6 separate regions of the Homo sapiens genome follow, and all the other regions are reported to be linked to region 1. Evidence: microRNA targets listed by miRTarBase, many of them from high-throughput screens and not tested one by one. Region 1 holds a microRNA gene; each other region holds the end of a gene's coding sequence.
The links. The annotated mature microRNA hsa-miR-190a-3p reads CUAUAUAUCAAACAUAUUCCU and lies in region 1 at 3,288-3,308, opposite strand. An mRNA with a match to its seed (bases 2 to 7 or 8) in the 3' UTR can be bound and repressed. Matches are read on the target gene's strand: a 7mer-m8 pairs with bases 2 to 8, a 7mer-A1 pairs with bases 2 to 7 and ends in A, and an 8mer does both.

Region 1 (5,204 bases):
ACATCCCCCACTGCCCCCGCTCCTCCTCAACGTCCTTACCCACTTCCCCTGCTCACTGTCCTTGTCAGGTCCTGGGCAAGTGTTGGGCAGGGGAAGAGAATGTCCTCCCATGGTCTTTTTCTTGGCCTTTTCTTATGCCCTGCAACCCCACAGCTCCTTCCGCCAATGAACTTGAAGGTGAAGGAGCATAAGGCATGCATAGGAGATGGCCAAAGGGCTTGCCTCCCTCCCTGAAAACTTACTTTGAGGGAATGCTTTGTTGAGAGCTAAAAACACAATGGTCGCCCTTCTCACAACTGGCTCCACAAACTGAAGAACCACCCGTGTCATCTTTCCAGTGGGGTCTCAGGCTTTGCTCTGTGTTACTCAGAGTCTTGCAGAATGCCTGCTACTAAAAATAAGGTCATAGTGCATCAGAAACTTTAAAAAAACCCTCTTGGATATATATTTTTTAAAGTGTGAACATTTTGCATTTAATTTAAATGTCCTTGAGGGAAAAAAGGAGGCCAGTGTCTAGAACTCCCACAACAGGAGTGAGGCATTTTCCTGCCAGTTGGAAGCCGGAGTGGAGCAGGCAGCCACATTTCTCTTTTTTTTTTGTTGTTGCAAGTTTGGCTGCTACTAGTTTGCTTCTGGTATTGAACTGAGAGGTGCCTTGAGGGAGGCCTTAGCCTGTATGCAAAGCCCCAAACTGTGCAAAGGTTAGATCAGCTTCTCCTCTGGAGGACCCATGGATGGGGTGGCTTCAGGACTGCCACCTTTATTAGTTCAAACAAAAGGTACACCTCCCAGAACAACTGGAACTGCTAAGAGCCAGGCATGGACAGCTGGCCTTGTCTCAGGGAAAGCTCCAGAGAGACCTTAAACAGGCAAAATGGGTGGCAGAGAAACTGCCAAATGGCTGTGCCTGTGACTGGGGAGGGACCACACCCTCCGCATCCGAGGAATACGCGCGAGTTCATGCAGTGTCTGCTGGAAAAGGTCCGCACCTGCATGATTAGTATCTTGGGAGTAGTTTTCCCATAGTATCCATTGCTTTACTTTTGTGTTCAAAATGGAAAGCAACGCCACTGAAATAATCTTTTAATCACTATTTCTGTTTAAGGGGCCCTTGAATGTCGATATAGAAAGCACAGACAAAAGATAACAGGGTTCTTCCCAAGCTGTATCAGATAAACTCCCTACATCTTAAGCCCCCTTTCTGTGTCTGTGAAGGATCTGACAAGGACCTACTGGTCTACCCTGGAGGGGAGTCTCCCATACTTGCTTTTCTTATTTATTTATGTTTTTGAGACCGAGTCTCACTCTGTCACCCAGGCTGGAGTGCAGTGGCACGATCCCGGCTCACGGCAACCTCCGCCTCCCAAGTTCAATCGATTCTCAGCCTCCTGAGTAGCTGGGACTACAGGCGTGCACCACCATGCCTGACTTATTATATATATATATAAATATATATATATATAATATATTTATATATATTATATATTATAATATATATTATAATATAATATATAATATATATTATAATATATAATATATTATATAATATATAATTATAATTATATTTAATATATATAAAAATATATTTTTATATATATTTATATTTATATATATATTGTATTTTTAGTAGAGACTGGGTGAAACCCAGCTGTTGGTCAGGCTGGTCTCGAACTCCTGACCTCAAATGATCCGCCCACCTTGGCCTCCCAAACTGCTGGGATTACAGGTGTGAGCCACCATGCCCGGCCCCATACTTGCTTTTCACACCCTGTATGCTCCTGGTCTGGAACCAATGAGTGCCACTCAAAGCCCAAGTGCAGCCATACAGAAAATGCTGTATTTGTCCTCCTCCTTCCTGAACAGTTGGTTCCTTTTTCCCTTCACCATATTAATCACTACAGAGAACATGCTGGTCAGTGACAAAGTCACCCAAAGAAACAAGAAAATCACATCAATTCAAACAACTGGGCTTCGTCTGCAGGTCCTTTTGAAACCATGTTTTTCTTTGTTCGTAATAACTTGCTGTCTCTTTTCCATGGCCATTTGCCATTTCAGTCAAACAATGTAACTGGACTCAAAACCAAAGCCGGTGTTCTCTAGCTGTGTGAAGGAGGGACTGATTGGGGCAGCATCTTGAAACCCGCCTGACAGAGCACCTGCCAACACACACAGATCGCTTCTCAATGGAGAAGGATTCCAGAGACAGGATCCATTATGTAACTCCAGAAGCCAGGACTCCAACATTACAGGACCCTCTCCTGTGTCATCACCTCTCTGATGTTGCTGTTGGTGACCCTGTCACTATGCATTCACCTGTAAGCAATGTGGCAATGACTTCTAGACACAGTAAGGGGAAGCTTTCATGACTACCTGTTTAAACCATTTGCTTACACCTTTTCTCCTCCAAAACATTGAGAACAGTAGTTCTCTTTCCAGAAAGCAGTGCTCACAAAGTATTTTGTTTGTTGAGAGAACTCAGAATGAACTCACACATACTTCACAGGCTTTTCTATAAGGAAGAGGTCAAAACCAACCAAAGAAGGCTGTTATGTACCAGAAAAAATGTTTTCTATATCATAATCCCAAACTTCCTGCCACAGTCAATTAGGCTATGATATTACTTTCCGATTGTTGGCTTATTCTAAATATTACCAACCTCCACTGACAAGTTAACCTATAACAGGAAATTCAAGAGTTCAGTCAACATTATATTACCTTCATGAGATATATTTAGTCCTATATCCAAGGTTTGTACAAAGCTCACTGACTCAGTATCCATGCAGCTGGTATGGAGGATTTGCTTTATACATTCTGTTACTGTGAGTGGAAAGGGAAGTCATAGAAAACTGATCTGTGCTCCTTGAATTTTTGCTGAAACCCTGACATGAACTTCTAAATTGAAGATCAGGATAAAAATGAACCAAAATGAAACATGAATCTAGATGTGTTTGAGGCTATAATCCTGACCTTTATTCTGTGTCACAGACATGGGTTGGAACCGTTTTTTCCACCAAGCATATTGAATTCCTTAAGGATTCATCACTGCACAAAACTAAGCCACACAGAATACCCCAGGCTCTTATGAAACATCAACACTTATTGTTTCTATAATAAGCAAGTAATCCAGTAATACTGATACAGGTCTCAAATGCTATAAGAAGAAATGGAAGATAACATGAATTGTAATGAGTGCTCCATCTTCTAAATCTACTTGTGATTTTAACGTGTTCTTTCCTGTTGCCTTATAAACTTTATTAGGAACCCCCGGAGACAGGGCAAGACACTGTAGGAATATGTTTGATATATAGTTGGATTAAATAACAACCTAATATATCAAACATATCACACAGAGGCCTGCAGAAAAGGCATCCAGGTTTGACTGAGCTCGAGACTAGGCACAGTATTGAAGGTTACGGCTGCAGGGGGTGGTCACTTTTGCAGCAACTCCGATAACTGTCTTTGGAGCACAAGTCTGCCTGCAGATGTGGAAACGGCGCCATTAACAATACTGTCAGCACATGCACCAGCGCTCACTGACATTCTCATCTCCCCAGGTGAACAGCAGATTCAACGGTGCATGTCTGGGAGATCCCAGGCAAAAAGTGATGCTTAAGTTTTAAGAGCCTGAGGTGGAAATGTACCAGAATCATCATCAAAGACCATGAGCCATTCTCCTTTAAAAACAGGCAACCTGAGACGGTGGTGAGCAGAGCATTTTAGACAAAATTACTGTCTCTCCCCAAACTCTTCCTGAAAGCAGTGTGAATACTCCCCAGAAGGAACACACATCCATTTTATACTGAAGGCATGTGTGTGTACCAGGGTAGGGTTATAGGGATGTAATAAGCAATTGTTTACTGACAGTACCCTGAGGATTTTTTTAAGGTTTTGGGAGAGAATGGAGAGAAGTGATTCAACTCAAAAGACTGGCTGATTTTGGTGCAGATTGTTGTTATTGTTTTTTAATTGGGGAAATAAATTCCTTTATAAAGGCAAGGAAGATATTTCATGCAAAAGTTATTGCAATGTGCCCTATTAGGCACAAAAACTATGGTTTGGGTTGCAGGTTTTCCAAAACAGTTTCATAGATAATATCCACCTCTGGCCATCAGGCAGAGAAAGACTTCAGACCATTGTGAAGCATTCTAGAAGTACCCATCACCCTTCCTAATACGATGGGAGTGAGCTAAGGTAGGAACCCTCAAACAAAGGATTCACATCATCAGTTATGTTAACCTTGACCTTGGCCGAAGGACTCCTTGGCTTTCCTGTAAAAACCCTCAATGTAAACACAAAGGCTATATGATCCTAGAGTACTGTAGGGAGTCCTCACAGGCCTACTTCAGCAGTCATTAATTTTTAAGGTGCTGTTATTTTTTAAACCTTTGTTTTATAAAATGTTAAAACACAGACCCTTCCATCATCCCAATTCCATCATCATTCTTGTACATTCCCTACTTATTTTCTTCATCTGTGAGTTTTTAGAGTTGTAATCATAATAAGTACATAATTCTGCATCCTTTCTGTTATACCATGAGCATTTTCTTCGTGCTACACAGTCCTAGCAACCATTATTTTTCATAGCTGCATAATATTATAGCTGCATAATATTCCTTCGAGGAGTAGCTCTAAGGGCACACATAAACTACAAATGGCCTTTGTGGGACTAGACAAGCCTTCTCTGACAATGGGGTGGGAAACAGGGGCTGGTATGGACTGAAACTGCCACCCAGGGCCATACATAGCCCTCCCAGCTGAGTGACAGTGGTCGGACCCTGGCAAGGTAATTCGCCTCTTGGTGCTTCTGATTCTAATGGACTTTTTCCAAGGATCAGATGAGTGACTCCCATAAAGTACCCAGAAGACTGCCTGGCACAGGCTTGGCAGCTGAACAACGCGAGCTTCCTGGTTTTCTTTCTTCAGGGGCCAGTGGAATAATTTTTATTTCAGGCATTTCCTAGGGAGTAAGTCCCAGACACACATTTTCAGTGATGATGGTGATAATAATGGTGATATAGTTACTATCTACCAAGTCTCACTGTATGTCAGGCAGTGTTCTTATACTATCTTATTTAATTATTATAACAATAATCCTATGGGGTAGGAACTTTAATAATTTTGTTTTCCCATCTGGAGTCGTGAAGTGAACGACCAGACACGGGGAAACCAGGACTCAGACAAGAGCTCAGAAGGACCCTGCGGAA
Region 2 (5,204 bases), not on the chromosome of region 1:
AACATTTTAACAGAGTGCTTTTTTTTGTGGTTAAACACAAGAAATATCTCTAATAAATAATGGGTGTAAACAGGTAAGAAAACTCAAATGAATTAAGATGCTTTAACATCAATGTCTAACAATCCTCTTTTGAAGGACATCAAAAACTACCAGATTTTCTTTTAATGTCAACTGAAATGCAATTATGATTTCTTCTATTAACATATACCAGGATTTACTGCTTGAGATCAGCAAATTATGGCCCACAGGCCCAATCTGACCGGCTTCCCGTTTCTGTAAATAAAGTTTTATTGGAACACAGCCACACTAATTTACATGTTATCTGTGGCTGTTCTTATGCTCTAAAGGCAGAGCTGAGTAGTTTTTACAATGGCATTTGAAGTCCATATGATTCCTGTATTATTTACTATCTGATCCTTTACAGAAAAAGTCAACCCCTGCCCTAGGGGGCTAAGATAGTGTATGTTTCTTTACTTTTATTAACACTACTGTTTTCTCTTATTCTAATGCATGTGTGTAATCCATCTCTTTTTAATACCTCATTTTATTTGTTGGTGTATACCTTGGAAACTTAACTGTTAGCTGAATTAACATCTTTAATATATTTGGAACATAAGCATATGTCCAGCCAGAATCTGTTTGATTTCAGGTCACGTGGGAATTCTCCAGGAGTTAGATGACAATAAAATGGGTGCACCACACACCAACAGAATGGCCAGAAAACTGTATGTCTTATTTTATCTTGAATAAGGAAGTTGGAGAGCAAAAAGAATAATGAAAACCAAACATACTTTAAAGTAAATACCATTGTAAATCAGAGGGAAAACAGCTTGAGAGTTTTCAAAACACACACACACACACACACACACACACACACACACACACACCCAGAGCCATCCTCCCACCTGTCACAAACTAAGAGCTATAACATAAGCAAAGTATATTTGTTTTATAAATATATTACTGTCTATATACATATAGATACATCCATAAGACATGTTAAATAATTATTTGTATAATCAATACTACTTTAAGTTTTTTGTGTATTTTAAAATTACACATTCTATTAAAAATATCAAAATAATTCTTTGAAAATACCAAGAATAAAACCAGTGAAGAACTGCTTTCCATCCAAGTGGTTCTAAATCTTATCATTGGCCGTCCAGACCCCAGACTCGGTCGTTCACAACTCAAAGAAACATAGTTTAATTAGAGAAAAGTTAGCCATCAGAAGCACTCCCCCCAACCCCTGTTTTTAATACCTCATAACAAATACATATTTGTGTATATAGATATACATAAAATACTCTTCAGTTATATTACATATTCTCATAAATGAATTTTCATAAAAACACAAAGTTCAAGTTTCCACCAGTATCAAATATATTACACTGGTGTGCATTTCTTCCAAATGTGTAAGTCAATGACAAACTCTTATCAGGATATAGAGAGAGATCATAAAAACAAGACTGAAAACGTCTGTATCCCATGCAAGAAAGGAGGAGATACTAAGGGCCAGTATTTGGCCAATTGGGTACTATTCCCTCTGGACTAAGACACAGAGACAACAGACTGGCTAGTTACTGTGTAAAGCACAGTCAACTGTCAATTATTCAGGGGCAAAATACTCCAGTCTGAATCCTTTTTTTTCCGATCAGTTGACCATTTCTGGCAACTTCACTTATTAACACATCTCTCTGGTTATTTATTAGCAAGTCTGGTAAAAGATTTGGTTAGAGAGAAAGTTTTGGCTAAAATGAAGGCTTGTGATCAGCTATGGATTTAATTTAATGATGGACTCCTTTGACTTATTGCTTTAGATAAGTAAGAATTTGCTGTACCTAAAGTCTGCCAATTATCTCATTCTACAGCTCTGAACGCAACATCGGTGCTTCAAAAAAAGGGGACAAACTGTCCTCTTCACATAAGAAAACTGCTATTTTTAAACTCATAATTAATTACACTGAAGGATTTAGTGTGGGTAGTTCAGAGCTACTCACTTCAGTAGAGGTGGCAGCTGGCTACACTATTTTCCCATAATTTAAAATCCATGAGGCAATGACAAATAGTCAGCTAATAACACAAGAAGGTCAAATTCAAAGTGTCACACACATCTCACCTAAGATCTCATTTAAATAAATGTAAAATTTGGCGAATGTTCAAATAATTAAAATGGTAAAATGAAGAAAATGGAAGCAAAACCTACATGTATAATTTAAAAGTGATTTCATACTAAAAAGAAGTCTTAGAATATGACTAAAATAAAAGATACTACACATTTGTAACCCTGTTTTTGGCACTGAGTTAGCCTCTACATTTAAACTTGCTTTATAGTGACCAAATCAAGGAGAACAATTTCACATGCGAGTAGGGTTGCTTTCAGACAGACACCACTCAGAATGGGTTGTGTGGCCTCACCCATATTATTTCTGGATACAGATGAGTGCCACACTCATTTCAAACACAACAGCAATAATTGTGTAGAATACCACTTTCCTGAATTAAGTTTGCTGAACACGGTTCAGATTATTGGTTATGTCAATATGCACAATGCCTTTTAGAAGCATTTACTGTATACCCAAATCCTACTTCGTGCAACACACAGTGTCACACAAGTAGTGAAAATGTTATCCTAGTCAAAGGTGCTTGGACATTATTTTCAGGCAGCATTTTACCTTTATTTTAAGTTCACACTAGGTAAGTTTTAGGAGAAAGAAAATGCCAATAAATTTATTTACTGTGTTTTAATATATTATATAAAACTAAGACAGACATTTCTATTTATCTAAATTGTTATTTTTATTTTCTAATCTATTCTAGACCTCAATTTTACTTTAAAAATTTGTATTTAAATAAGGGATAAAATGTTGCCCAAAAGTCTAATCATAGTTACATACTTGTGTTTTAACTAGATCTACAAATCAAAATAGTTCTTATAGTTAAAAAGATACAATTTGTATCAACAGTAAAAGGTACTTTCTGGTTTTTCAGGGCTTCACTTCAAACTGTAGCATGTAGGATAATCAGAATAGCCAGGGCATCTAAGCAGACTACAGAAAAAGATCTGAATGCATCTGTTACGTGAAGTACAATTCAAAACCTGGACGCAACAGTCAAGTGATGTCAATCACACAACTGTCTGCCACTGACTGCAAAATCTATCTTCTACTCCGCAGAAATGTATTCACCACTAGCAAAACCCATGACTTTGAAACCAGAAATATCCCTTACTAATACTAGAACAGACCTTAGTCTGTATCTAAAACTACACTATTTGTGGCAAGAGTCTGGCCTTAATAATATAACAGGCCCCCCCAAGAAAACTACCTTCAGGAAAATGGAAAATATACAATATCTTACAAAAATTTTAAGTTACCATTTACAACTCCTCCATCACCATTTCTCTATAGTGCAGTATCAAGAAATGTTGCATAACCTCAACACATAAACCCACCTCAGGCCAGCCTTGATAAATAGCAGGAAAGCTAAAGAGTATGTTAAATATAAAAGTTGCATTGTGAATAATTAGATTCATTAAAAACAGGCAAGTGCTGTGAAAGGGTTATTTTATCCAGTATTGTTGTGCCCCAAAACAAAAAGACAGACATATTAAAAATACAGGTTAATGGAAATCTAGGAATTCAATTCCACTTCTACTGTCAAGAAGCACATCATAGCTGGATAACAAAGCTCTAACCTGTAACAGTTACAGCTTTTGCCTTATTCATTTTTAAAAAATGGAAACATTTTTCCATTGATTGCATCTGCTTTCTTTTAAATTGACCATATTAAATTAACTAATTTCTTAACAGAAAAAAAAATCCAAACAAAAATAACACATCGAAAAGTGCCATATTGTAAATCATTCTAATATATATATACTGTAACACATTTCAACATAAAACTGGTAACTTACATTCTGTTTAAAATATAAAGTCAGTGCTGTAGTATAACTTTGTTTCTATAAATAATGATTATAGCACAAAGAAGCCCACTTTCCCCAAATAAAAATAACTTAAAAAGCTGTAAAAGAGTCTAACTAAGCTTGGCTCGAAAAAACAGTTTGCTAGGTCTAGTCAAATGTCCCACATTCTGAAGGTATTGTAATTGCTTGCAATTGATAGACAAACACCAAGTTAATAAAACACAAAACAAGGATAAAAAGTGCTGCATATAAACCCCTGATGCACCAAAGATTAATATCAAAGATCACAGATACATCTATTAAATCAAACTGGAAAAATTTCCAGCCAAGGATATAGCTTTAAAAAGGAAATGTTAAAAAAAAAAAGTTTAAATGTAAAGCAATCCCGTGATACTTCCACCATGTGGGGCTATACATACAGATTCCATGATACAGTATTTCACATAAATGGATACTATATAACCTCCTTGCTGAGAAGGAGATCACATGTGCTATTGTAGCAAACCTCCCTCAGCATTTGAGCTGAACAAAAAACTACTAAACACCACAAAGATGCATCATCTTTCAATAACCCAGCTGGGATTTCTCCACTAAAATGGCTGCGGCGAGCTGCTGGGCGTCTGTCATGTGAGGATTCCTTTTCATGACAATTCTCACAAGGTCAGGGGGGAAGATGTTGCACAAATTGATATAAATCTTTTCTCGGTTGTCTTGATACCTCGGGGGATCTTGCGGCATTCCACAGTATGGGATCCGCCAGGCTGGCTCCTGTTGCTCAGGGAGGCTCTGGAAGGTGAACTGCTCATAACACGGCTGTGTGGAGTTATCGGGCAAGGAATAAGTCTGCCGGTACCCATAGGCGTCGATCCCATAGCCTGGCCTCTCCCAGCTTCCCAGGCCTTCCTGGCGGGAATAAGGCTTTCTTTGTCGTGAAGGAGAACTGTCATAAAGTCGAGAGTCAGAGATGCTGTCTATTCTCGTGGCCACCAAGGACCTCCCTAGGTGTGGTGCCTTAGAGTGTGCTGAACTTGGAGGAGAGGGGTAGTCGCCAGGACAGCTGGACCGGGCGCCCACAGCGGAGTGCGGCAGGTGCAGAGCCAGGTGCGGAAGAGGAGGCTTGTGATGGAACTTTGGTTCTTCGTGACTGTAACTTTGCCCTCTGGTTAAGGGGTCGTGGAAATTCTGCAGGAACGGTTGAGGATTAAGGCGGCTGTGAGGGTGCATGTGTTGACACTTCAAATTCTCCTCTAGCTGTGGGTCGGGGGAGCTGACATAGGAC
Region 3 (5,204 bases), not on the chromosome of region 1:
ATGTGGAATCTCAGATTTCTTTTGTGAACTCCTTTACTGTCAGACAATTAACCAGAAATACCAAATAAATGAAGATGGGAAAACACTACATATTTAACATAAAATCTTTTTTAGATGTCTGTATTCTCAAGAAATTATGATTAGGACATGTTTACATAGTTAAACGAAACCTCTGGCCTCTGCTAGAAAAATATATTTATCTATTGAAAAAAAAGCGGGCATAATTCCAAAATATATCATTTCAAAAGTTCTAGTGTTACCAGTGGTGAGTATGGGCACGCTCCATAGTCCTTGATCTTTGTCTTCTTGGGAGAAAGAATTCAGCCAAGAGACAGAATTATATTTAAGGCAGAAACAAGAGTTTATTGAAGCAAAAAAAAGTACACTTGGATGGAACGAAGGGGGACGTCAAAAGATTGAGTACCCAGCTTGACCTTTGTCTTAGGGCTCTTAGAGATTTATTATTTCCTATTTTTTTCCCCATCTCTTCCCTCCCTGTATGTGCAGTGGTTTGCCAGTATCTGGAAGGGCCTTTTGGTGATTGAAGTTATGCACATGCTCTCTTAGGGCAATTTTCCCTTACTGGGCTAGCACTCCCGGCCAAGCCCCATGGGAAGGTCATATATTTGTCAAACTCTGTCATTTTGCCCCTTACTGCGCATGTCTGGTCATGCCCCCAGAGGAAGGCCAAACTCTGCCATCTTAAATTCTTATTGGGAAGTTGTTGCCCATGAGCTCAAGATGTCTCCTGTTAGATTTTCCCTTCCCTGTCACCAGCCCTCACAGTCTTTGTGGCGCTGTCCTGCCCTGTTCATATCTGCCTATCTACTCTAAAGCTAGTATCTTTTAAATAAAAACCCTTCTATAACTCCACATCCCCTTCCAGCTACCCCATTTCTCTGCTCTCTTTTCAAATTGTCTGCATTAGCTGTTCTTTATTCTTCATCCCCAACTCCCCAGTTTCCATCCCTTCATTTGTGTAACTGTCTCCAAATGCAACTAAAGCAGCGGACCTCTTTTCAAAGCATTTGCTATTGTTGAGCCCTCTTATTTCCTGGCTCCTGTGACACTATTCTCTGGTTCCTGCATTCCTCCTGTATCTGTTTCTTTTGACGACTGTTTCACTACCCCCAACTTCTAAATGTCAACACTTAGTGGGGCTTTTCTGCCTATGTGCTCCCCTGGGGTGAACTCAGCTGGTTTAATGACTTAAAATACCATTTTCCTACTAATGACTCCCAAACTTGAACCTAGACCTCTTTCTTGGGCTGCAGACATATATCCCATCACCTACTTGACATCTTCATCCAAATATCTTATGAACACCTCAAAGTTAACTTTTCAAATAGAACTCTTTCATTTTCCCCACTTTCCCAAACCTGTTCCTCCCATTACACTGAAGTCAAATCAGAACCAAGAAGTTATAGTTAAGGGCACTTGCAGCTACTAGGCTGGCTGTCAGACATCTATAGATTTGGCCAGTAGGGAGACAATGAGTCCAAATAGATTGAGACAGTTTATTATTTACACAGACAGCAAAAGCAGTATCAGGATGGAGTCAGCTCCCTGTATACCTGGTCCTTAGGGACATCCCTGGATGACACTGAACCAAGGGGACAAGATGACAGATGACAAGTAGAAATAGCTCTGTTGAGGAGCCAACTCTAAACTATAGCTAAACATTTTTATAGTCGGTATCTGCACCTGAATGAGAGTGAGGTCACTGGAAACCAGCTGGATGAGAAATTGCCTCACGGCAGCCTTTTGCAAGACAGGGAGGTATTTTGCAAGATAAATGGCCCTTTGACAGCTCCTTTACGATGGCCTATCTTGCCATGGAGGATCCAGAGAGGATCACGATGTTTTCTACCAAGACCTGTGTCAGACTGTGGTTGAGTTTTGCCTACGTGGACTATGTGCAGTGAGCAAGGTAGCCACGGCACCATGCCAGATGTGTTACCCCTACAGTAGTATCTGATTCTACCCCTTCCTTTAGTCTTATATCCAACCCATCAGAAAATCCTGATGATTCTACCTCTAAAACAAATCTGCTCTGCCTTTTCACAGCCATTGTAAACCCAAGGCACACTATATTCCATTGGGAGTGCTATATATCCACTCTTGCCTTCTTACAATCCATTCTCTACACAGCAACTAAAGCAATCGTTTGAAAATGTGTATATGATGACTGTACATCCTTGCTTACAAAAAATTTCAGTGGCTTTCTATTACACATCAAATAAAACTCATTCTTGGTCTACAAGGTCTTGCATCATCTGGCCCTTAACTACCACTCCAGTATCATCTCATACCACTCTTCCCCCTCACTCATGATGCTTCATTCCCAGTGGTCTTTTTATTCACAGAACATAACAAACTCTTTCCCACCTCAGGTACTTTGTACTTGCCGTTCCCTTTGCTTATAACATGCTTCATACCAGGTTTTACTTGACTGTTTCCTGCTTAACAATTAGGTTTTAGCCAAGTAAACAATTAACAAGTTAACAACTAAAACTTAAAACAATTAAGTTTTAGCCAAGCTATCTCCTCAGAGAGGATTGTCCTGACCTATGAGAAGTAGTCAATTGGCCCCCAGTTACTCTCTCTCCTATAATCTTGTATATTTTCTAACTGTGACCTGTGATTTTCTTGCATGTATGTTTACTTATTATTGTCTCTCTCTCTCACCAGAATGGTAAGCAAAGAGCAGAGACCTTATATGTCTTTGTACTTCTATGTCCCTAACACCCACCAGACACAGTTCCAATAATATTAAATACTATTCCAATATTTGCTGAATAAGTTATTTCTAGTACTTTTTATAAACACAAAACAAAACGTTAACTTTTTTTTAACAGTTAAAACACATTTTCTAGTTCCATCTTGCTTTCTTAATTTACTTTTGTCTTCACATCAGATTTAATAAAATAATTACAAGTCAGGAATCAGAATACCTGCATGTTTATGGAGTAAAACCAATAATAGTCAAATAACTTATTACCTTTAAGTGTAAAAATGTGTTTATTCACAACCATTTGTAAATTACCATTTGTTACCATTCCTTCAAAAAATTCTTTATGAACAAAAAGCCAAGAAAAATTACAATCGTAGCTTATGCCAAACCAAAAATATACATCTGATGTATACAAACTTTAAAAAGCATTAACACAGGCAATGTGAATATAGATTACCTTAAAAATATTTCCAAGACACAGCTACAACTTAAATTATGTTAAGACAGATATAAATAATAGCATTACCTAATGTATTATATTTACATATTTAAAGTATCATATTAATTTCTATGACATAAAAAAGGAGATAAAACTACAGATGTCATTGCTTAGCAGTTCAAATATTGAAAGGGCCACATGATTTTTTTTTTTAAGCACAGCAAGAACTTTAGGTTACTATTTATATCTGGACCTTCCTATATTTATAAGAACATGCACCGTCATTGTTGCAAGAGGAAAAAAAATTAAAAACATTAAGGAAAAACCAAAAAACAGTTTGCTTACTAAAATCATACCAAATCCTCAGCAAAATCAAGGAAAGCAATTATGGAGTGTTTTCTATCCCTGGCCTTGTAAATTGACATATACATTTTAGAGAAAAGAACAGTAATTGTCTAGCACAAAATGCAGTTATAGATATTGATATGCTTAGTTCTATCCCATTAAAGCACCTTGTACTACAAGGTAAAGGAAGGCTTAATAAAATCAATGGAGCCTTTCATACCAGAAAGGATTTTATTTGAAATACCCGTATTACCTTTTTAGATTTTCTTTTCTGAAATCATGCAGAGAATATGTTCTGTGTAAAATCTAACATCGTTCATTGGAAATATAGAATTTTTTAAAAATAATGGCACCTAAAAACTTAATACTGTATATCAATTAAAGTCAATATAGTGGCATGTAAAATGAAGTGGAAAAAACTAAATATATATATATATATATCTTCTTAAATATTATTTTTTATTATTACCAACTTGAAATGTCCAAACTCTGAAGGGTTATTTTTATATTATCTTTTGTTCAGATTGAATCAACATTATCATACTAGGACATGTAAATAAACACATGTAATGCCGATACTTCAGCATTTCTTAGAGTCATCTACCCACATCAACTGTACTTACTATTAGATAATAAAATCCAAAGAAGTCATAGAAATAAATAATGCTGGAAACGGGAACACTATTCTAAATCTGAATCTGACGATCCCTCCTCATGCTTCCTTCACATCGGCTGAGAATTAACAAAAAAGTCTTAATATTTTCATAGTTAGACAATGAAATAGGCTTCATAAATCATTCAAAGTAAAATTAATTTTAAAAATTGAAAGTGGAAATCTACCATAGTAAACAGAAATGCTATAAAGACAAGACAAAGTAAATTTAATCAGTAACATGACAGGACCATTAAATTGGTCTTGAAAAGCAGAAGGCAGATGATGAAATTGCACTTAATTCTGTATCAATTCAGATCCTATCATCCCTACTCCTTTGTAATAAAATAAGCATTTACAACATGGTTTCTTACACATCTCCCTTACAAAAAGGCTAAGCACAATCACTTATACATTCTAGTTGGTTTTTAACATTTGGTCATAACTGATAAACAAGGTCACACAATTTTACCCTATCGAGTCTGTTGATCTGTGTCAGAATGCCTTATGCCAGAATCAGACAGTTCTAATACAGGATTTACAAATCCAGAATACTCGGAATTTCCATTATCATCCATTTCGGCACTAACAAAATCATTTTCCCACTCCAGCCCATTGGAATCATCAGAGGCTGATGTAGGATTACTTCCAGTCTTCTTGTTGCTATACTTAAGTGCTGCCCGTAGAATGTCTTCCTCTGTTTTGGAACGTTCTCTCATTGGAAGCATTCTATTCATTCCTATGATTTGAACAGAGTTTTCAAAAATCTCAGAACAGATAATAAAGCTATATTTAAAAACTCCCAAATTTAGCAATGTAGTTTTTATTTAACTATCAGACTTGATGTGTGAATTAACTTAAAGACCCAGTCCCATGGAGGCCTTCTTAAGGGAAATTGTTGGGTTCTAACCCTGAAGTATGCCTCAGATAAAAATAAATATTAACAGTCACCAAAGGGCAGTTTTGATGCATCGATTATCCGATAAGATGAAATTCCTGAAGACTCATAAATAAAACAGAATGGATGGAGGATT
Region 4 (5,187 bases), not on the chromosome of region 1:
TAAATGGGAAGAAGTAACTTTTTTTTTCTTGAAAATAGCCTAGAAATAAAATTATACACATGGTAAGAATTTATTGTATTGCATTGGCAGTTGTCCCCTTTACGGAACAGTGAGGAATTTATCAATTTTGGCCTTAAAGATTTCTAATGACCACATACATACCACTTCATAGTCCTTTGTTCTACAAAGAATTTAACTGTATTCTATTATGAGCTAATGCTCGTTCATATCACTCAGGAGTATCTTTCTTGTTTTGCTTGAAAGGAGCGTCTTATGGATGATGGGCTTGAAGATGAGAGTGGAGAAGATGGAGGTGAAGATGCCAGTGCAATTCAAAGGCCTGGATTAATGGCTTCAGCTTGGTCTTTCATCACCACCTTCTTTACTTCACTAATACCAGAGGGGCCTCCCCAGGTTGCCAATTGACCTGAAAAACTGTGCCAGCTACAAGGAGGGTCTGACTTCAGGAAAGTGGTTTAAATAACAGTGCAATTTCAAAAAAATTTATAACTTTCTTTTGATCATCATGTACAGAGGTGTTTTTTTTCTTTAGGCTTCTCATGCATATGAATATTTTAAGCACGAATGGACTACTAAATATCTGAGTTTTTTTTTTTTTTTTTTAAAGATCCTAACAGAACATAGCGTAACAATATTGGTCTTCCAGGTGTTACTCATTTCAATTATGTGTAGTATACCAGGACAGACCTATTTTCATGTCTTATTTCTTTAAAGAGCTGCTTCATTGGCCGGGCGCCATGGCTCACGTCTGTAATCCCAGCACTTTGGGAGGCCGAGGCGGGTGGGTTACTTGAGGTCAGGAGTTCGAGACCAGCCTGGCAAACATGGCGAAACCCCATCTTAACTAAAAATACAAAAAAATTAGCCGGGTGTGGTGTCACGCGCCTGTAATCCCAGCTACTTGGGGGGCTCAGGCAGGAGAATTGCCTGAACCCAGGAGGCGGAGGTTGCAGTGAGCTGAGATTGGGCCACTGCACTCCACCCTGGGCGACAGAGTGAGACTCGGTCTCAGAAAAAAAAAAAAAAGAGCTGCTTCACATATAAATGTCTATAGCTAGTAGCCTGGCCCTTTAATGTTTAATTTGAATAGATATATCTGTTTTCCGTGAATTATCTTGAAAGTTTTAAACAGAATGACCTCATAGTTTTTAATAAAGAATATTATTTACCTAAAATGTGCTAGTAGCATCTTGCCCAGCCATAAAGCAATAAACTTCTCAATAATCTTAATTTTGATATTTGAATAAATAATGGAAACTTTCTGTATTAAGGGCATGTATCCCATCAATTGGAATCAGTACCTTAACAGAAAAAGGCAGCTCTTCAATGGAATTAACGTGATATAAAATGTTTGATATAGGCAGTACTTTTATAAAAAAAGATAAGCTGGAAATTGCTCCGTGTAATTTTTTAAATAAAAAGTCAATTATGGTAAACAGTTTTATGGGATATTTGTTCAAACTCTTCACCCATTACATGCAAACATTTATGTAAATTTTAGTAGTTGTTTGGAAGGGTTGCTGAAGTCTTAAAGGTCATTTACACCTCTTTCCATTCCAGATGGATATCTCCTAGTTAGATTGAAACCTCATTAGTTTATTTAAAAATCCCTGTGAAAGCCAATTTAATGTATCATGAGAAGGCAGTAAGTTTCTTATGGGATAGCTAAATAAAACAAATATGTGTGGGAGAACTTTATATCACATGAAATACATTATAAAATTATGAATGTGGTAGTGGCCCAGGGGAAAAAATATATATATATGATTATATATATATGATTATATATATGATTTATATATGATTATATATATATGATTATATATATGATTTATATATGATTATATAAAAATTTGTATATTTTTATATAATTATATATAATTATAATATATATTTATATATATAATTTGTATATATTTATATATAATTTATATATTATATATAATTATATATTATATTTATATATTTACATATAAATATAAATATATAATATATATTATATAATTATATATATTTATATGTAAATATAAATATAAAAATATATAATTATATATAAATATATATTATACAATTATATATATAAATATAAAAATATATAAATATATATTATATAATTTATATATATTTATATATAATTTATATATTTATATATTTATATATAATTTATATATTTATATATTATATAATTTATATATTTATATATAATTTATATATTTATATATTTATATATAATTTATATATTTATATATTTATATATAATTTTTATATATAATTTATATATAATATATATATATAATTTATATATTTATATATAATTTATATATATAATTTATATATTTATATAATTTATATATATAATTTATATATTTATATAATTTATATATATAATTTATATATTTTTATATAATTTATATATTTATATATATTTATATATATAATTTATTTATATATATTTATATATTTATATATATAATTTATATATTTATATATATTTATATATGATTAGATAACAGTAGAAGATTAAGAAAACATCAATAAATTATTTTCTGATTTGTTTACTTACAATGATAAAAGTGACATTATCAGGGATGACTGCTTAGTTAAGCGTTTGAAAAGTAAAGTTAGATTTCTATTTATAAATTTCAAGACATGATTGAATATGAACAATCAAATCGTGGAAATACTAAGAAAATGTGGGTGAATATATAACATTGGAGTGAGAGAACACTTTTATGGCAGAATCTTTAAAGATTGCTGAGTATATAATGTTTTGACATAAGTAATTTAAAGGCAAATAATTAGAGCACAAAAGATAGAAAAGGTAATAAATGAAGTCTTAAATTCATTCCAGTAAAAAATAATTTGTATCCAGTAAAAAAAAAAAAAAAGCACTCCAATAGGAAATGGGTAATAAAGATGAAAAAAGGTAGTATCCAGTAGTTAAAACTACCATATTCTTAAGATGATATTTAGTGTTGGTGAAACTGTAGGGGAATGTAAAACAGAATATAGCCTTTCCAGCAAGTATCAGATTTTCAAAATGTGCACAGATCATTCACTGTCATCCTCTTATTCCTAGAATACAAATCAGACTAATGAACATGGCTTACAAAATCCTGAAAGGTTGTGCTCTCGCCTCCTGTCAGTTTGAGCTCCTCCTTAATTCCTGGTTTAGCTAGGCTGCTCTTCCAATTCCTGCACCTTCCAGCCCCGGACTTTTTAAATTGCTGTTCTTTTTGCTGCAAACACACACAGTTTCTTCCTTCTTTGCCTCACTAGCACTAATGACTCATCAGATCTCAGCATAATTGCCAATTCTTTGGGAGGCTTTTCCCTGGAAGCACAGTTTATTACTTTGCCTTTAACACTGTTGCAGTTTACATTTATTTCCTTGTTTCTCTCACCATATAGAAGGGATGAAGTTGGGGAGAACCTGGTATTTAGTTCAGTCCTGGATGAGTGCCAGCAGAAGTTTGAAAGGATGTCATGCATGTGTGAGATTTAGCTTTCCAGATATTCATTGCATTGTTGGTTACTAGGAAAAAAATCAGAATTAGCAGATGTTCAGCAGAGTGAGCTATGGCCACATTTGAACACTGTTTGGGTCCATGATTAGGGATGGCTTATTTCAAGACTGATGTAATTATTGCATCCAGAAGAAAGGTCTGGATTTTAACCTGGGAGCTAAATAGATAAACTATCAAAGCTGGCAGAAATGCCCCATGGGTCAGAGCCTAAAGCCAGGTACAGGGTGGGGAGAGGATGCAGAGTTAATTGTGAGACTGATCAGTTTCATTTCTGTTGGAAGTTGGAGAGAAGATAATTGGAGCTGTAGATCTCACTGGGGGTGGGCAGCATTGTGGGGACACCCCTCTGGAGGAAATGAGCAAGTCCCTGCCTCCTAGCAGCAGGGTGGGGCCTAAGGAGAAAGGTCCTGGTTATAAACTCCTGTGAAGGGATGTCACAGGTTCTAAGAACACTGAAATGCGTGAGCCACTGTTATTTTTCCTACATTGTTAATTCCCTTCTGTTAGCCTCACATTCATTAAGTCTTTGTCAAGAACTACAGCCCAATGTGAGCTGTGTTTTGGATGATTCAGGGAGGGACTGTGTCCATACTGGGGCCAGATGGTACCTAGGTGGCTGGGGTAATCCAAACACTGGTCTCAAGGCCAGATTGTGACTAGTAACAACCAGGATATATGTTTCTGGAATATAAACACTTCTAGGACTTCTTACATTATTATACATTACCATAAAGACTAGACCTACAGTGAGAGGGTCAGATTTATGTTAGATAGGTAAAAGAAAAGGGTGATCTGGAGGGCTGGAGAATTGGAGACATTCACATCATACTTTGGTGACATAATTAGATGCCACAGCTCACCAGTATTGTAACTATTTTCCTTGGCTCTTTCTACCATCGCTATTGAAATTAGGCTTTTCAAATTAGTGGCAGGAAAGGCCATATTTGGAGCTTCAAATACACAGTCCCAGTGGCAGTTCTTGCCTCTGTGTTTTTTTGTTGTTGTTGTTTGCTTGTTTGTTTTGAGACGGAGTCTCACTCTATCGCCCAGGCTGGAGTGCAGTGGCACTATTTCGGCTCACTGCAACCTCTGCCTCAGCCTCCCAAGTAGCTGGGATTACAAGCGCCTGCCAACACGCCCAGCTAATTTTTGTATTTTTAATAGAGATGGGGTTTCACCATTTTGGCCAGGCTGGTCCTGAACTCCTGACCTCCTGATCCACCTGCCTCGGCCTCCCAAAGTGCTGGGATTACAGGCGTGAGCCACTGCGTCCGGCCTTGCCTCACCGTTAAAAGACTACAATATGACGTGATACATCAGCTTTTTCGAAGTCCAGTGTACGTCAGACCCTGAGGCCTGCAGTATCTGGAATGGTGTTGCTGGATGTGCAAAACTGCCAGGCTCTGGCTTGTGGTGTTCTCATCTACCAGATCATTCCTGGGAGGCCCAATTTGGCCAGCTGGCTCACCTCTGCCGGTGGTATTGCTAGCATTGCACATTGGAACTGCAGCTTGGGAAAGTGATAGAAACCAAACACATGGTGGGTACAAAGCAAGTTTGTTGTATTTTATCCACATTAGTATTTTGGATGTTTCAATATTTAAACATTTCAAAAAGCAAAATCAATGATAATACTTCT
Region 5 (5,204 bases), not on the chromosome of region 1:
ATTTATAAACCTATTAAGAGAGAAGCTGCATGGATTACAATAGACCTATCTGGGTCCCAGGAAACAGAATTCCTCTTTGGGAAAATGTCTTTCTCATAAATTATCATTATTTGTAAAAATAAAAATTCCTAAGCTGTTAAGTTTACCTGGGTACAAAGTTTTTTTTTTTTTCTTGGAATCCACTGGTCTCTAATACTTATTGAGTATGTATGTTGCTTATCAATTACTCATTACCTATACACATACAGCATATATTTAAACATGTAAACACGTGTATATACATACACATTCATTTTTGGAAAATTATTAAACTCCTTTTTCTTTTATTTAAAATAAACCACACCCATTAAAAACTGGATAAAAGCCTTCTGATAAAGTCTTATCCTAAAATGAAGTGTGTATGTATATACATATAGTCAACATTAATTTTGAATACTGCACAAACTATTTTCTAGTTTAAAAATTTACAGTGATCAACTAGTTACACACTGAATCATGGGAGAAAGGCCATAGGCTGATTGTCACTTTGAGTTATGCCTTAATTACCCTGTTTCTAGTGCACTAACTTGCCAGCCACCTTCTTTTTTGTCCCCTTTATTTTTCTAAGAAGGGCAAAACATCCTTGAAGATCACTGTTATATTCATAGCAATGTGTTTTACGTTTATGGAAAACCTAAAAACCAGAGAAAGCCCACAAAATAACAGTCATTTCAAACCAGAGACAATGCATTTTTTCTCATTTATTCAAATTCACTGCAGGAAGTAAACACTAAAAGATTAAAAAACAAAACAAAAAAATTCACACTGCAGTATGTACAGTTTCATGACATCACATGAAGAAATTAAATTTCTAATAAAAATGGCAAATTATATTACTGAGCAGATCGCATCAAATTTGGTTGTGTAAACACCAGAATTCTTACTATGAATGGTAATGTGCCTATATTCCAGTATTGCTAATACTGGGATACTCTTGGAATAATGTTTGCAATGGGATTAAAAAATTCATGAAAGTAGTTGTGTGAATTCTTTATGTTTAAAAGTGGTTGACGATTAAAAAAATTCTTTAAGACCCTTCGAATCAAAGCACATTCTTTCACAAAGCTTAAACCACAGACGTCATGTCCAGAAATGGAATACTGTCATGTTAGGATGAACATCTGATCTGATTTGTTAAGACATTTTGCCAAATGCACAGATGCACAGGGTCCCCCATGCACTTTTCATGCAGCAGGTAATCACAACTTAAATAAAAGGTTTATTCTATACATTTGTCCAGACTTGCAACTGTATACATACATGCACAACTTTTAAACCTGTCTGATTATATTTACACTTATACATGGAATATACAGGAACCAAAGAGATTAAAAGGCTTTTCTGTTGCATTAGAACAATACAAAATATGTATTTTTCATTAAGGAAATCACTATTTACATCACCTTTAAAAACCGATTTTAACATCTTCATGTAACAAGTCAATATATATATATATACATATTATATATATATATATATATATATATATAAAATATATACTCTCACCAGTTTACTCTTCTGTAAGATGCAGCAGAGAATAAACAGGTAATGAATGCTACCTTACTGATGTCAATAAGCTGTAGTACCCTTTCACAAATGACTTTATTAGAAGAAATTGTCTAGATATCTAAAATAGTCCTTGAAAATGTGTATATGTGCATCCTTGTATCTACATATGCATAAACAAAGTGAATCTGTGGATGTATGCCCTTTCTCACTGTTCTTTAAAATCACCCTAAATTCAAATTGGGAACATTCTCTAGTAAATCAGAACAGCATTCTTCGTGGTCATGTTTATTTAAGTATTACATATTCTCATTCCTTTGTTAACAACAACGAAAACAACCAGCCAACCAAAAAAACAAAACAAAACCCACACACACACACACAAAAGTAGCAATGCTGGCCCTTGGTCTTTTCCCTGACCTAAATTTCACTCTCTTGTAAAAAGGTCATTTCCCCCTACCCAAGGGAGAATACCAACATATTTTTTCTGACATACCTCTAAGGCTCCAAACCTTCCACAACGATCAAGAAAAATGACTTGTTTAAAAGCTTATTTATATAGTGTTGACAATAAGATTGTCATAGTATGGACATGGAATAGAATATATTCAACTGGCCAGTGGAATTTTATGTCAGAATAAGCCTATGCCTTCACTTCTCCATGATGTTGCATAATACCCACTCCTATTACTGTATAATATTTCCAGTAGCTATTTACAAATCATTCTGAGGAAAAATAACCATTTAGGGTTTTAGATCATATTAGGAAATCACACCTATTTTTAATATAAAAATCTTAGAAACCACTTCAAGTAGAACAATTTTAAATCAATATCCTAACTAGTAGTGATTATAGAATAATTTTTGATAGGTCATTTGCTAACCTGGTTCACAATTAAGAACAAAATATCTGGTGAATGAATTGTGGATTGTACAAACTGAACATAAAAACAGACCTGTTTCGCAACTGAAACCCCATGTGGCTTCACTAATATATTAATTTCTTCTAAGACAGTATCAACATGTACTTTTCATCACTACTTTAAAGTAAAAGATCCAATGGAGTGATTGTGTACAATTCTGTCACGTATATGTGCCCTTTGTACTTTTTATTTAGTCAATCTGAGTTTAGTGCCCTTCTTGGGTTTAAACTAAATGTTGTAAGCTTTGTTGGCATTGTTCTTAGGACAATGGTTTTAATAAAGGTTAAGGATGCATTCAGGAGAAGTTTCCAAACCATCCTGGAATCACCTGAGTTTGGTAAGTGGCCCTGTTTTTCCATCCCTAAGGCTAACTAAGTAGATGTTACTCATTAGAACACACAAATAATCACAGATTTTCCTGAGATGTTGAGCCAGATATGAAAGTTATCCCCTCCACCCAATTTTTGTCATAAAAAGTGTTCTGAACCCGATTTCCAAAGACATAACGGTAATATATGAACTACAATATTGCAAATTTTGAGCTGATGTGTGACTGTATTGGGGAAAATAGAGGCATCACATAGTTTTTTGTTTTTGTTTTACAGTCTCATGTTCTGAGGAAAGTCATAAGTCATGGTTCTCAAACACAAGAAACACCTAGAGAGCATGTTAAGATGCAGATGGAAGATTCCAGGTCCACTTAGCAGAGATTCTTGTTCTGTAGATCTGAGATGCTGCCTATGAATCTGCATTTTAAAACAAGTGCTCCAGATGGTTCTAATGCAAGTGGTCTGAGTTCAGGTTTAAGGAATCCTGGTCATAACACTCGCAGGTACCACAGGAATGGTGAGAATTAACTTTTACAAGAGATGGTGAAAACTGTCCAAAGAAAAGCCATTTTGCTTCTGTTAAAAACAATTTCTTAAATATTCAACTTTTCAGGAAACCACCTAAAGATAAATGTTAACTTTTCTAATTCTGTAAAAGGAGGAGTATTAATTTAGTAAAGTAGTTAAAATACAAAAAATGGAAATCTGCCTTTTTTTTAAAGGATCTATCAAACTTCCCTCAATTGTAATCAATTTTTACTAAGTAGCACAAGGTTTAAAGAAATATATATTGAAAAGGATCAGGGTGGGACAGACACATTGGGAACCACAAAACCTCTTCCAAGAGTTAAAAATAAACACCTTTTTTTTTTCTTTTTAGCAAAAGTGAAAAATGTAAGCATATATTTTTCTAATTTATTTTTGAATTGGATAATAAGCTGTGAATCAGCACTAGGTTTTTTTTTATTGGATAATTATCCTTTAAAGAGTTGTTTAACAGTTTAGACTTTAAAAATGTGTTATGTAGGCTGACTTCTGAAAAGCAAAATAAAGTACCCTAATAAAGGCAGCAAAATGCATTAATCCACTATGAATGGAGTTTTACATTTTAATTTATGCCTAATATTTATAAAAGAATTTCATTCATAGGCTACTCACAGTTGTTATCTGATGCATACAGAAGTGTTAAACAACCAATTGCTAGTTCAGTAGTTTCCTCATGACATCTAATGTTAAGCAAAAATTAGTATGCATATTTCAACATCACCAGTAACCAATACTTTTCAAAATGAAAAAAGTTTCAATTATACCATGCTTTTTTTCAAATCATGCTCTTATTTATACAGATCTCAAGTTCATACTCATTAGTTTTAAAAAGATCCAAAACTGGATGGCAGGTACATTTTATTCTGATTCTTTCTTTATCGTTAGCACGCTTCCCAGAAGTCCATAAACTTCTCCATTTGCGCTGTGTGGGCGAGAAGCATTATTTCCCATATGGCTATTGTAAGGGCTTCTTAAATTAAAGAAAGAAGCTTTCGTTTCTGCAGTAGGAAGTAACTCTTCTTTGGCTGTGACCTGTGAGACACTTTCAGCAGATGAAGCCTCCCTCCAAATGTCCTTGTCTTGTGTTTCTCGACTGGTAACAGAATTGCCTCCTTTTTGAAGCATGTAATATAGTATTGGGTTGGTTTTGGTCAATCTTGGAGAGTCTTTTTCATACTCATTCTTCTCCGCATCAGTGATAACCCACTTAATGGGTCCTTTCTCACTGGGCATGGAACACCCATTCAAAAGCCCAGATTCTGGTCTAGACCCTGCACAGCCCAAGTGCTCAGGGAAAGTAGGACTCACAGGAGTTTTTACTACACCTGGGTATGAAAATGTCCTGTTATCCATGCAACTGCTGGGCTGAGTGGAACTGTACATCAGTCCATTTAAAGAAGAAATGCTAAATTCAGGTTTGCTGTTGGTCACATTATTTTTGTGTCCTTTCTTTTTACTGTCAGCCACAGAGTTACTTCTGTGCGGGGACAAATCTCGCACACAGTTTTCTGAGAGAAGCAGCTGTTTCAGAACATTAAAGCTTTTGCTCTCTCTGGCCCAACTCCTGTGTTCACTTTCGCTGGCTGAGCCATGACCAGCAGGATATTTAAATTCAAGATCATTTCTGCTAAATTTCAGCTCTTCCTGGTTAAGCAAGGACCCATACAGTACTTCTGGGGCACTGTGATTGTTTGCAGCATCAACAATGTTGTTTTTCATCTTTTTAAATGGATTTTCTAATGGCTCAGTATAAAGCTTCCTTTTCTTAGGGACCATGCAAAGATTCTTTGATTCTAGAAGTGCCATTTCATTATTTCTGTGACTCCTGTCTGAATCATCTGCCAGGTAACTATCTTGATTT
Region 6 (5,204 bases), not on the chromosome of region 1:
TCCATATTTTTAACAAGTGTATGAATGACGCTAATGCTGTTCTTAAATTATATAATACAAAAAAAAGCACTACTGGAATAAGGAAAATTCTTCTATATACAGCTGCATCCTTATAGGTACTTAGTGTTTAAGTAAATGCAAGAAGCTGGTTAACAATATGTGGGCATCTGAAGGAAATTAATGTGAAATAGACTTTTCACTCTTAAATCTTTTTTGAGCTGGGTAAAGTATGCTAGTATTACCTATTTAAAAAGCAAATAAATACATATTTTTCCCAACTCCCAATTAAATATAAATGAACATACCTTTTGACCCAGCAATTTACTTCCAGGAAATTATACCACAGATATATGTAAACATACAAACTTATTCATCACAACATTTTTTTCCAAGCAAGAGGTTAAAAAGTTAAAAGTCCATCAAGTAGTAAACTGGTGAAATAAGCTATATATGTTTGCCCAATGGAATAATATGAAACCATAAAGAAAGAACATAAACTAATAATGTACTGATCTGGAATAACCTCTATGACATAATTTGAATGGAAAGATGCAGAAAGGAGTATATATTATGCTAATATTATACAGATAAGGAAGAAATATATGTATATGTTAGCATACATATGCATAAGCTATCCTGGAATACAAAATGATTGATATCATTGGTTGTCTCTGAGAAGGGAAAAGGATGCCAGGCATCAGGGTTAAAGAAAGAATTTTTATCCTATACACTTTTTTGTACCTTTTGAGTTATGTGACTATGTTACCTAGTAAATATTTTTCAAAAACTAGTTGGTAGATATCTTTCCATTTAAGGAAACAGTTATCTAATTTTTAAATGACTGAATGATAGTGCCTTGTATGGATTTACATACATATTGATGAACTCTTTGAATGTTTCCAGTTTTTCACTATTGTAAATATCCTGGTGGTAAGTATACTTGAATATATTTTTAGACATACGCACAAGTATTTTTTAGCAGAAAATTATTAGACTTATTATGGTAAAAAACAAAAATTAAATGTTGATTGTTATAGCTATATTAAGGTCATCTTTTGTTGTTATTGCTACTTGTAACAGCTTATTGGATGTCAGGATGTTTTAGAGGTCTCTGACAGTTCCAGATTTTAGCTGTCCAAAACACTTTTTCTTCCCCTAGTTTTCAGTTCTAGAATTCTCCTTTCTTGTGGAGAATCTAATTAGTATGTTTTGGGAGGGGCTAATTCTGCCTTACCCAGTTCCAGAGATGGGCATGTGACTCAGGCCTGGCCAGGGTATGCCATCCATGAAGCTTTAATGATTTGTTTGTATTTGGATTTGTGACCCAGGCTGAGCCAATGAAAATCATCCCTAATGTATTTTACAGTAACAGTTGGGATAGACAGTGTGTTTTCCTCTGAGGTTCCTGAGATTCTTGTACATGAACCTGGAATGATTAGTGACCATCCATATTACCTGGATATGAGACAAAATTTTTAGAAAGTATTGGTAAGAGATAGATGATAGATAGATAGATAGATAGATAAATAGATAGAGTGAGCTAGATTAGATAGACAGAAAACTAGATAATGCCTTGATGACACAGTTTGAGTCCTGAATGAGTTGTGCCAGGAGACACATGCACAACATATATATATATTTTTTGTTGTTGTTGTTGTTGAAAACCTCATTCTTTCTGGTCATATATAGTATAGATATGTTCCCCAGTGTGCTGCTTGTCTTTATTTTTGGTTATTTTTGCTCGACAGACATTTAAAAATTTTTTACATGGTAAATTTGTTCATCTTTTCTTTGAGGTTTCATTACCCGCTTTTAAAAAAATCTAAATCTGATTTTTTAAAGACCATAGCTATTTATTTTTATATTTCAACTTAGACCTTTAGGCCTAAAATTGGAAATTAATCTTTGTTGTGGTGTGAGGCAGATAATCCCATTTTTAAAAAAAGTAATACATTATATAAATGTATTACACATATGTATTACACAAATGTATGCACACATACACATGTTGAAATGATTGCCTCTGACTTTCATTGGTTGATGGTGTAGCCGAGTACCCCATTTTTAAAAGGAAAAAAATGATTTTTTTTTCTTTTTCCTTTTCCCCCGCTTCCTACTTAGCTCTTTAGGAATGCAATTATAACCTTTACCTTCTCTCCATCAGGTATGGCAAGCTTATCTATGTGTTTACTTAGAAGTTGCAGAGACCAAAACTTGAAGCAAATCAGGCCCCTCTGGAACTCTCACCCACTAAGAGATTGCCTCAATTTACAACGTAGCTGCCTGCCATGGCGCCAGCCAGACCACATGATAGATAAGACATCTGAAGCAAGTCACACAGACCCCGCACCTCCTCCCCTCCTCCCCATCCCCCCTTTAAAAGCCCTTGCCTTCTGCCCTGAAGGCTGAAGTGGTATCTCAGGGCAGGAGCCTGTACTACTTCCCCTCGGGTAGCTCTTGAATTAAGTCACTTTTTTTTTCCCACCAGACCTTGCTCTTGTTATTCAGACTCTGCAAGCAGTGGATGACTGAACCTGAGTTACAGAGGCATTACAAGGAGGATTTTGTTTTCTTCTTAGGTTTAGTTGTATTTTCTAATATTTCTATAATAAATATGTCTTACTTTCATTAAAAAATACTGTAAGTTACTTTTTTTGGAAGATCTATAAGAGATCACTCAGATTCAAGGTTTATACTAAGCATGAAGAGATTGGGTTCTAAGTATATTTCATATTTGTCTAAGTATCTAGGTATATTTAGTTTTGAAACGTCCCTCAGAATTTGTCATTTCCCTTGAAAGCTATTCTTTTTTATTTCCTATTTCATTGAGAAATTACTCAGTTAAACCAAAACCCAACATGTTTTGAATAAATAAATAAACATATTTCTTCCCCAAGAAATATTTCAGGAACAAGGGTGAGTATTAATAAACTATATGCCACAGGGAGTTAGTATTATTTTCTTCATCTTGTTTTCTAATTATGAGTATATTACATTTTAATGAATTAATTTATCATACTATAAATATCCCTTTCTGCATGCATGTGTAATATGGTAGTTACTTCTCTCATTATAAATAATTTTATTCTTATGCTGGAGAATATAGTGTATACTTATCAAGCAAAGTAAAGTTTACCTGATTCTGCTGAAAAATGAAACAGAGTCTCAAGGAAAAGCGTGTAAGCATTGCAATTTATTGAAATCAATAGAAAAATTATTCTGCCTGATTTATCTTTATTTAAATGATATCACTAAAAGATACACACAAACATGACAATGTATATTTTCTGACATTAATGATGATAGCTGTGTAAATCATTTCATATCACTAAATTTAGCAATGATATTTGAGATTTAAGTGAACTGTGTGTAAAGATATGTGAAACAATTCTATGCCATTCTAAAGTTGTTTGTATATCAAAATGCCCTTTTATCTTTCTCTTACCAAACGTTAATTCTTAAAGTAAGTTTTACTATATGTATATGCTGCTTTGCAATGTTATTTTGTAAGCTGTATTTTATTTTTGTGTCAGGCTATCACTGTAGGCCTTGGTAGATGCTGGTGCTAGCCTATGGAATCAGACTAATGTCCAGTTGCTCAGCTTTAGGACATGAAGTTCAAGGTAACAATTAAAGACTGTACCAGTTCTCTAAGAACCTGGGACATTAATTTAAACAAACAAATGGGGATAGAATTAATCTTTTATTCCCCAAAACAACCTACAATTGAGATGGAAGGTGCTGGTCAGATTTCCACAGAAATGCACAAGCATTGAGCACTTGGATGTGTGACATTGAAGCTCTATGCAGCACATACCCCACTGATGACTCTGCAATGCTATCTCATCACTTAGTATGGATGCATGAAAAGACCAGTTGTAAGACATAACCCATTTTGCAAAGGATTCCAACATTTTTCCTTTTATAGTAAACAGGCTCTGAAAGAAATTTTCTAGAGCTTTATTCAAATCTAAAGGCTTTACTAATCCTCCTTGAGTAATTATTCTGCAACAATTCCCAAACAATCACAAACTTTCATAAGGAGCTAGAATTACAAAGATAATTCGTATGAGAAGACACTTATGTCTTCCAAACAGAACCTCTACTTTCAAAGAGATGAATTACTATATGCAGATATATATGCAGTAAAAGCCAGTAAAGTTTATATATATATATGAATATATATATATAAATATATATATATATAAATATATATATATATATATATATACACACACATACGATAAATCATTGTACTATAATTCTTTTGACAACTCCACATCTAGAGCTATTCTTCTACTAGGACTACCATCTAAAACAAAACTGCTTTCCTTTATTCTTCTATAGCAAGAAGGAGAACAGACATAAAACATAACTGGAAGCTGTGATGCTCCAAAAATATCACAGGATCGGATGACACGAAAACCTTCACCAAACTTGGGACCATGACACCATTCACACCTGGATGTGCTGAAATGGAGGAAACAGCAAGTCAATATTTAATAAATTTTTACTAAAGACTCTGTGCTATGCAAGACTCCAAATAGTATAAAATACTGCCCTTACCTTCATTGAGCTTACCAGCTAGGTGAGTGCTACCCATTAAGTGAAAGACTAAACGCTAAAAAAGCTGAACAATAAAGTAGGTATATGTATAATACAATCCTAGCTTTTTAAAACAGAAAGGTATATATGCATAACAAGAAAAAACTCTAATGATAGATCCCAAATTGAAAATAGTTATTATTCTTGGGAAATGTGATCACAGGGGTTTTATGTTTCTTTATAATGTGTTTCTTTATTTTCTAATTTTTTATAATAAACATGTTATTTTTTATGATACAAAATAAATATATCATTTAAAAAAATAAAGGTACTATCATAACCTAGTATGGAATTAGAGTCCATAATGTATTTTTAAATGGTTAGAAATCAGTTAAAAAATATTAATCCATTAGTACATTAACATTAGTACAGGAATAGACTATTCACAGAAGAAGAAAAAATGAATGTCAAGAGAACACAGGTAAAGCTTTTCAATCTCCCTAGTAATCGGGGAATACAAAACAAAATAGCAAAGAAATACCATTTCACAATCATCAGATTATAAGAATATGTTTAAGTATTTAAACAAACTATAAAACCACTGGAAGAAAACACAGTGGAAATGTTTCAGGACATTGACCTAGGCAAAGATTTTATGG

Region 2: miRTarBase lists ZC3H12C as a target of hsa-miR-190a-3p. Seed matches in the 3' UTR shown: 7mer-m8 at 3,874-3,880, 7mer-m8 at 3,872-3,878 and 7mer-A1 at 2,753-2,759.
Region 3: miRTarBase lists AP1AR as a target of hsa-miR-190a-3p. Seed matches in the 3' UTR shown: 7mer-m8 at 3,953-3,959, 7mer-m8 at 3,951-3,957, 7mer-m8 at 3,949-3,955, 7mer-m8 at 3,947-3,953, 7mer-m8 at 3,945-3,951, 7mer-m8 at 3,943-3,949 and 1 more.
Region 4: the mRNA of HERPUD2 is a reported target of hsa-miR-190a-3p. The part of its 3' UTR that is shown has no 7-base or 8-base seed match.
Region 5: miRTarBase lists NRIP1 as a target of hsa-miR-190a-3p. Seed matches in the 3' UTR shown: 7mer-m8 at 3,582-3,588, 7mer-A1 at 2,100-2,106, 7mer-m8 at 1,522-1,528, 7mer-m8 at 1,520-1,526, 7mer-m8 at 1,518-1,524, 7mer-m8 at 1,516-1,522 and 11 more.
Region 6: the mRNA of LRRC63 is a reported target of hsa-miR-190a-3p. Seed matches in the 3' UTR shown: 7mer-m8 at 4,224-4,230, 7mer-m8 at 4,222-4,228, 7mer-m8 at 4,220-4,226, 7mer-m8 at 4,218-4,224, 7mer-m8 at 4,216-4,222, 7mer-m8 at 4,214-4,220 and 14 more.

The regions. Positions count from the first base shown.
Region 1 is chr15:62,822,112-62,827,315 of GRCh38, reverse strand. MIR190A (microRNA 190a) reads right to left here and starts at 3,359; the gene lies at 3,275-3,359. All of the region lies in intron 54 of TLN2 (talin 2), which reads right to left.
Region 2 is chr11:110,165,023-110,170,226 of GRCh38, reverse strand. It overlaps ZC3H12C (zinc finger CCCH-type containing 12C), which reads right to left. Exons shown (of 6, transcript NM_033390.2): 6 at 1-5,204. The coding sequence ends at 4,490. Among named protein-coding and RNA genes, the nearest start is that of ZC3H12C, 74 kb to the right of the region's middle.
Region 3 is chr4:112,267,849-112,273,052 of GRCh38, reverse strand. It overlaps AP1AR (adaptor related protein complex 1 associated regulatory protein), which reads right to left. Exons shown (of 10, transcript NM_018569.6): 10 at 1-4,909. The coding sequence ends at 4,644. Among named protein-coding and RNA genes, the nearest start is that of TIFA, 15 kb to the left of the region's middle. RefSeq lists an enhancer at 1,555-1,674.
Region 4 is chr7:35,628,929-35,634,115 of GRCh38, reverse strand. It overlaps HERPUD2 (HERPUD family member 2), which reads left to right. Exons shown (of 9, transcript NM_022373.5): 9 at 265-1,457. The coding sequence ends at 426. It overlaps LOC101928421 (a long non-coding RNA gene), which reads left to right and starts at 2,491. Exons shown (of 5, transcript XR_007060285.1): 1 at 2,491-5,187.
Region 5 is chr21:14,960,515-14,965,718 of GRCh38, forward strand. It overlaps NRIP1 (nuclear receptor interacting protein 1), which reads right to left. Exons shown (of 4, transcript NM_003489.4): 4 at 721-5,204. The coding sequence ends at 4,202. Among named protein-coding and RNA genes, the nearest start is that of ASMER1, 44 kb to the left of the region's middle.
Region 6 is chr13:46,275,856-46,281,059 of GRCh38, reverse strand. It overlaps LRRC63 (leucine rich repeat containing 63), which reads right to left. Exons shown (of 10, transcript NM_001282460.2): 10 at 3,945-4,470. The coding sequence ends at 4,257. It overlaps LOC105370194 (a long non-coding RNA gene), which reads left to right. Exons shown (of 3, transcript XR_941946.4): 3 at 4,348-5,204. It overlaps LOC124903170 (a long non-coding RNA gene), which reads left to right and starts at 1,219. Exons shown (of 2, transcript XR_007063785.1): 1 at 1,219-1,274; 2 at 2,165-2,636.